Linked DNA regions of Homo sapiens. The protein of the gene in region 1 purifies or fractionates together with the protein of each later gene. This does not show direct contact. Each region holds a gene or a part of one and is shown on either strand. Other genes may lie near its edges.

What was found.
Region 2: the proteins of CIMIP2A (region 1) and ACY3 purify together in Homo sapiens (affinity purification with mass spectrometry; one large-scale study listed by BioGRID and IntAct). This does not show direct contact.

The regions. Positions count from the first base shown.
Region 1 is NC_000009.12:137,244,912-137,249,325, forward strand, and holds the start of CIMIP2A (ciliary microtubule inner protein 2A), read right to left. Parts: upstream 2,805-4,414; coding exon 2,749-2,804; intron 943-2,748; coding exon 728-942; intron 647-727; coding exon 396-646; intron 308-395; coding exon 178-307; intron 68-177; coding exon of another isoform or gene 1-67. UniProt on the Homo sapiens protein: Microtubule inner protein (MIP) part of the dynein-decorated doublet microtubules (DMTs) in flagellum axoneme. Binds to the intra-tubulin interfaces.
Region 2 is NC_000011.10:67,641,865-67,645,011, forward strand, and holds the end of ACY3 (N-acyl-aromatic-L-amino acid amidohydrolase (carboxylate-forming)), read right to left. Parts: intron 3,006-3,147; coding exon 2,896-3,005; intron 1,076-2,895; coding exon 860-1,075; 3' UTR 691-859; downstream 1-690. UniProt on the Homo sapiens protein: Plays an important role in deacetylating mercapturic acids in kidney proximal tubules. Also acts on N-acetyl-aromatic amino acids.

The DNA.
Region 1 (4,414 bases):
TGGGAAAAGCTGGGCTCCTGGAAGCAGCTGGGAGGCAGAGGAGGTCCCCCCAGGCCGCTAGCCTGTTCTGGAGCAGGAAAAGTGGGCCCCTGTGGCAGCCTCCTCAGGGGCTCTCACACTGCAAGAACCTTGTGGGGAGGGGCGGCCTTCTCCAGCCCAGCCCAGGCCCACACCCACCTGAGATGGCCTTGCGTTGGATTAGGTTAGGGTGGTCCAGCTGCGGCAGCCGCTGGAAGCTGCCCACATCTAGCGTCTCCTGCTGGCGGCGGGCGGGGGGTGGGTACTCATCCCTCTGGCAGTGGTACAGCTGGAGCGGGGAGGAAGCGGAGGTCACGGTGCAGCTCCCACCTGGGGCTGAGCGGAATGGGCTTGGCACTGGTGCATCCCCTGGCTGCCTGGTGCTGCCTGGGGGCCTCGCAAACAGGAGTGGCGCTCTTCCAGGCCTCTTCCCCGTATACTGGGTGTCCCAAGTCTCTGGAGTCTCCCTTCCTGCCTGGTGGGCACGGAGGGTGCGGGGTGTCGGGCGTGAAGCCTGCAGGCAGCAGAATCTGTCTGGGTATGTTCTCTACCCCTGGCGGCTCCTGGGCGTCCACCTCCAAGGGTGGGAGCTGGCCCAGAATCTCAAAGTTCTTAGAGGGCTTCAGACCTGTACCAACAGGGCAGCCTGTGAGTGCCGGGACAGGCAGGCGGGCACAGGAGGGTGCAGGGCTGGGGACTGGCAGCTCACTGGTGTAGTGGGGGATGTAGGGCTCCGTCAGGTCTTGGCAGGGAACCCTCGGGGGCTTGGACTGGCTGAAGTCCTCAATGAACTTGGGTTTGGACATGGGGGACAGCACAGAGCAGGGGCTCTTCTGCACACTGGGGTCTGTGAGCAGCTGCCCCGTGGTACGCCCATAGGTGTTCCCCACCTGGTAGCGCAGCTGCGGAAAGAAGCCGGCATAGCTGTGGAGGGAAGAGAAGAAGGCAGGGCAGGTCTCAAGGGCAGCCCCAGCACTGGGCAGGGCCCCTTCAAGCCAGATGTGGATTCAGCCTGCTGGCCACTTAGCAGCAGGTTGGCCTGTGGCAGCTCGCCTGCCCTCTGCTCACCTGTAAATGGGGCTGCAGTGGCACTTGCCTTCTAGAGCTCTCTCAGCCTGAACAGGCGGCACACACCACATGCTGGGAACACGTCAGCACCACAGCAGATGGCCGCCTGCCTTGTACCAGCCCCTCCAACCCTCTCCCACCCCTCATTCCAACTGCCAGCAAATCAGGGGTGCTCTGCCCTGGCAAAGCAAGTACAGGCACAAGACGTGTGGGCCAGGACATAGGCGAGGGACGGACCCTTGGACACACGCAGGGCCCACCAGGAGGGTGTTGCGTGGGCTTGGCCTGCACCTGTGCCACCCCAGGAGGCCAGTAGCCTCCTGCACGGGAAGAGAACTGGGAGGCAGGTGGAGGGCTGGGCTTTTCCGGGCCCTCATTCAACCTCGAGGGGCATGGTGCAGGTGGTCACAGGCGGTTCAGCGCCTCAGGGTCTATGTGATCTTTCAAGGAGTGAGAACTACCTTCGTCTTAAAAACTGCCAAAGGGCCGGGCGCGGTGGCTCACGCCTGTCATCCCAGCACTTTGGGAGGCTGAGGCGGGCGGATCACGAGGTCAGGAGATCAAGACCATCCTGGCCAACATGGTGAAACCCTGTCTCTATTAAAAATGCAAAAAGTTATCCAGGCATTGGTGGCGGGCCCTGTAGTCCCAGCTGCTCGGGAGGCTGAGGCAGGAGAATGGCGTGAACCCAGGAGGCGGAGCTTGCAGTGAGCCAAGATCGCCCCACTGCACTCCAGCCTGGGCAACAGAGCGAGACTCCGTCTCAAAAGAAAAAAAAAAGCCGAGCAACTTCCAGCCTCAGCTTCACCTGCCCCTTCCCCAGACGTAGCTGTTCAGAGGCAGGTGTGGTTTCTTCCCAGCCTTTCCCCTTTGCATGTAGCGTGTGTGTATGTAGGTGCACACACACACACGTTCCGTAGAGGGGTTACTTTTATTTTTTGTTTGGGGGGATATCTAGTGAGGCAGCCTGGCGTTTGCTTGCCTTGTCTTTAAAGTGTGGAGTCCTGGCCGGGCGTGGTGGCTTAAGCCTGTCATCCCAGCACTTTGGGAGGCCGAGGTGGGCAGATCACTTGAGGTCAGGAGTTCGAGACCAGCCTGACCAACATAAAGAAACCTCGTCCCTACTAAAAATACAAAATTAGCCAGGTGTGGTGGCAGATGCCTGTAATCCCAGCTACTCCGGAAGCTGAGACAGGAGAATCGCTTGAACCTGGGAGGCAGAGGTTGCGGTAAGCCAAGATTGCACCATTGCATTCCAGCCTGGGTAATAAGAGCGAAACTCTGTCTCAAAAAATAAATAAATAAAATGAAATGAAGTGTGGAGTCCTCTCTGGAGTGGGCGTCGGGCACTTACTAGCCGGCCTCTGCCGGCTGCTGGCTGACCCAGTTTCTGCTCGACAGACGTGCTGGCCACCAGGTATCGAGTTCGCAGCTGCACACCAGCAGGGAGGGTGAGGCCTGGGCCCCTGGCAACCCCATCCCTGAGCTTCCCCTGTCCCAGGGCTCCCCAGCCCACAGACTGCAGTGCCCCGTGGTGTGGCCTTCAGTTTCCTGGGGTCCAGCTCTGGGCCCCTCACAGCTGGCCTCCATGCCTCAGGCCCCAGCCATTCTCCCCCTCCTGCAGCCCTGGCCCCAGCCACCTCCAGAGCTCCCGGCTCTCACCCAGGGACATAGTGAGGCTCCGGCGTGAAGAGATCGTGTTTCTGAGTAGTTGTCATTTTGCTTTCACTCTGGCCTTGCTGGCTCCAGTCCCTCCCGGCATCCAGCTCCCTTCCCTGAGGGGAGTCCTGTCACCGGGCAACCATTGTGAGGGGCCAGCATTGTGGGCACCTCCTGGGCCAGGCCACCTCGCTAACCCTGTGAGGGCCCACATTGCACAGGTGAGACACTGAGGCCCAGACAGGTGCCAGGCAGGGGAGGAGTTGCGGTGAGGCAGGTGGTCCGGGAGGAAGTCCCATTAACTTCAGAGCTCAGAAAACAGGACTGTCCCTCCAGAAAGGGCCTGGGCTCTTGCTGCCCCCAGGAGGCCACCAGCCCCAGTCTCAGGGTGAGGCTAAGGGAGTCCCCAGGCCCCCTCCTCTGACAGGAGGCCTTGCAGCTGCAGAGCCTTGGCTCGAGTCAGGGGCTTCCCGGCCTGCAGGGCTGTGCGAACTCTCCCTCCAGCCCTTCATGTGGCGCAGGGTGTTATGTTTACATTTTAAGCAAATCCTGAATTTTGTTCTTTTTTTGTACAGGAAGGACTTCCTAACCATAAAAATGAAGGAAGGCGGCCAGGCACGGTGGCTCACACCTGTAATCCCAGCACTTTGGGAGGCCGAGGCAGGCAGATCATGTCAGGAGTTCGAGACCAGCCTGACTGACATAGTCAAATCCCGTCTCTACTAAAAATACAAAAATTAGCCAGGTGCGGTGGCGTGCGCCTGTAGTCCCAGCTACTCGGGAGGCTGAGGCAGGAGAATGGCGTGAACCCAGGAGGTGGAGATTGCAATGAGCTGAGATCGTGCCACTGCACTCCAGCCTGGGCCACAGAGTGAGACTCTGTCTCAAAAAAAAAAAAAAAAAAAGAAAGAAAGAAGAAAGGCTGGGCACTGTGGCTCATGCCTATAATTGCGGTGCTTTCGGAGGCCGAGGCAGGATGAGGTGTGCAGATTGCTTGAGCCTAGGAGTTCAGGCCAGCTGGGCAACATGGGGAAACCCCACCTCTACAAAAAAGAAAGAAAAATTAGCCAGGCATGGTGAATGTGCCTGTGATCCCAGTTACTTGGGAGGCTGAGGTGGGAGGATGGCCAGAGCCTAGGAGGTTGAGGCTGTAGTGAGCTGAGATCGCACCGCTGCACTTCAGCCTGGGCAACAGAACCAGACCATTTCTCACAAACAAACAAAAAAACAACTAAAAGGCAAACTAAAAAACTGGAAAAAAGTTTGCAGTAAGTGCTATGAACAAATCTGGTATCAGCATAAAAAGCTCTCACAAAACAAAGATATAAACAACACCTCCATGGAAAATGCAGACTAATATGGTTTTTTTTTTTGTATTTTTAGTAGAGACAGGGTTTCACCATGTTAGCCAGGATGGTCTCGAACTCCTGACCTCGTGATCCGCCCACCTCGGCCTCCCAAAGTGCTGGGATTACAGGCGTGAGCCACTGTGCCCGGCCAATATGACCTTTTTAAGAAAAAAAGACCGCAGTCCGTAAATATAAGGGCATAAAGCAGGACCATAATCACATACATGCTGACTGTGTGTTGAGAGCAGTTTCTGAGGCTTACTGCCGGCAGGGTCACAGTGAGAAGGGCCTCTAATTTGGGTGGTGCCTTCTGGAAACCA
Region 2 (3,147 bases), on another chromosome or scaffold:
GTCCTGGGGATGGCGGAAATGGTGGCTTCCCAATTAGAGCTGGGAAGTCCCTGTGCCCCAACCCAAGCCACCTCCTCCCTGCATCTCTGCAGTTGGACAGGCTGTCCTGCATGGGGACAGCCTTGTCCTGCTGTGGCCCTTCCCCCAGCCCTGACTCCCTGCTTGAGCCACTATGGGCACCGGGCTCATTACACACTTAAAAATGCACATCTGGCCACATAGAGATCCCCTTAGAACGCCCAAGGAACTGAGGCTCTTGGAAACACGTGTGTGTGGGAAACGCACAGACACGCACGCCAAAGAGCATCCAGGGCAGGCGCCATGCACGGACAAACACACATGTGTGCACAGACATGGGCCTGTCTCTGCGCTCCCCACACTCACTGTCTGGCCCCAGGACTATAGGAGGGTTGGGGGGTCCCCCTCTGGGTTGTAGCCTCCTCTGGAAGCCCCTCCGCTGGATCCAGAGCAATCCTTCTTCAGGTTCTCCTCCCACACTCTGGAATCCTCCCCCAGGCATGGATGGACAGCTGTGGGCACAGAGGCAGCCACCACTGGCCCCAAGACACTTGCAGGTCCAAGGCTGCACTGGCCAGACCTCCCCCAGATCCTGTGGTCAACCTCCCTTCCTCCATCCACTTCCCCAGCCAGAGAGGAGCCGTGCAGGACAGAGGACACAAACCATGGACCTCTGGACATCTTCCATTTTATAGAAAGGGAAATTGAGGCCAGGGGTTGGGGAGGCCTGGCAAGGAACATGGTGCATGGTAGGTGGCAGAAGGGACCTCTGTGCTCAGAGCTGTGCCTCAGGACCCATCGTTCAGATGGGAAGACTGAGGTTGGGGAGGTGTGTCTTGGGTTAGGAAGCTGGGCTCGGGGCAGGGGTCAGCGCGGGCATGGCAGGCACGGTGAATGTGAACTTCTCAGTCTGGACAAAGGCAACGCCCTTCTCATAGTAGGCAGCCTCGTTAATGAACACGGGGTACACCGTGGACTCTCCCTCATAGAGCAGGTCCTCCCCACTGAACATCTGGAAGATGGGAGCACCAGGCTGCAGTGGCTGGAAGTCTCGGTCCTGGGAGGAGAGCCAAAGGCCAAGATTGCTGGGGCCACCTCTGCCCTGGCCCCAGAGGGGGGTGACCCCAGCTTGACACCCAAAAGATGCCCCTCATTCATGGCTTTTCCCACCCATGCTTCACTTCCTTAATCCATATGACAGCAGGTCTGGTGAGATACCAGTCTGCTCTGTGTCTAGAAATGAAGACACAGGTCACCTTGGGGTGGCATGTGCCCATGTGGAAGTGGACCCTCATGGATACGGGCACAGGTATTGAAGCTGGAGTTCAAATTCTTGCTAGCTGTGTAACTGTGAGCAAGTCACTTAACCTCTGTTTCTCAGCTTTCTTGTCTGTAAAATAAGGATTACAATATCTCCTCCTATCATTCTGAAGTTTAGACTAAACAGGTTAATAGTGCTTACAGCAGTGTCTGGCACACGGTAAGTACAATATGATTCTTTATTAAATAAATTTTGGCTGGGCGCAGTGGCTCACGCCTGTAATCCCAGCACTTTGGGAGGCCAAGGCGGGTGGATCATGAGGTCAGGAGTTCAAGACCAGCCTGGCCAACATGGTGAAATTTCATCTCTACTAAAAATACAAAAATTAGCCAGGTGTGGTGGTGAGCGCCTGTAATCCCAGCTATTCGGGAGGCTGAGGCAGGAGAATCGCTTGAACTCAGGAGGCGGAGGTTGCAGTAAGCCAATATTATGCCACTGCACTCCAGCCTGGGCAACAGAGCGAGACTCTGTCTCAAATAAATAAATAAATAAATTTTAAGCCTGGGCACAGTGGCTCATAATCTCAGTGGCCTGTAATCTCAGCACTTTGGGAGGCTGAGGTGGGCAGATCACTTGAGGTCAGGAGTTCGAGACCAGCCTGGCCAACGTGGTGAAACCCTGTCTGTACTAAAAAGACAAAAATTGGCTGGGTGTGGTGGTGAGTGCCTATAATCCCAGCTACTGGGGAGGCTGAGTCAGGAGAATCGCTTGAACCCAGGAGGCAGATGTCACAGTGAGTTGAGATCGCACCACTGCACTCTAGCCTGGGCAATGAAGCAAGATTCTGTCTCAAAAAATAATAATAAAAAATAAAATAAATTTTAAAATTGTAGGAGGAGCCACCCAAATTGACTGTTATGACTGAACGTCTGCAAGGTAGCTGGGCACGGCTGGATTAAGACTGTCTAGCCCTAAACATGGACGGGATGGTGCTGCCTCCATTTGTAAGAAGGTAACTCCTCAAAATGAAACTTCAGGGCACAAAAGGCCACAAGATTGCACCAGACCCTATTCAACAATGACCCCCTGTGGCAGCAAGCAGAGCAGCAGCCAGTACGTTCTTCTCAGGCACCCAAGGGAAAGGTGTGGAAGCAGGATTGCCTAATCCTGGAACATTCAGGAAGGGAAGGCCTGCAGAGAGACATACTGCCAACATGCATGGGGATGCTCGAGGAACCAATTGAAAATCAGAAGAGAGTTTTGTATTTGCACCTCCAAGCAGGTGAATTGAGTCATGCCTGCTCCATGTCCCCTCCCTCTGCCTTTTACAGCCAGGGTAGGGTTGTCTCCATCATGCCCTCCACAGGAGCTATGGGGATCACTGTGGCCTCTTGTGCTAGGCCTGAGTGTGGGGTTCCAGGGAAGGCAGCAGGGCCAGGGGAAGTGGGATGGCGGAGCCCAGCCTCCCATCCTGCTCCTCAACCCGAGATGCTGGTGAGCTCGTGGGAGGCTTGGCTGCACCCCCTGGGGCTCAGTTTTCCTTGACAATCCTCCTCCCCAAGGCTGTGGCCCCAGAAATCACCCCCCACCACACACACACACACACACACACACACCTGCAGCTGAGGATGCACAGTGCCTGCCAGGTGCCCGGCCTCGGTGCGGGGGAAGTCCACGACGCCCACGGGTCTATAGGCTTCCATCTCAAAGGCAGGAAAGGCCGTACCTGTGTGGGAGGCTGGGTGTGTGAGCCCATCCCTCCCTCCAGGCTAGGGGACAGACTGGGCCGTGGGGGTACGTCAGGGCTAGATCCCAGCCTGCCTGTGAGCCTGGCTCCCCAACCCCTGAGCCAGACCTGCTCTTCCCCG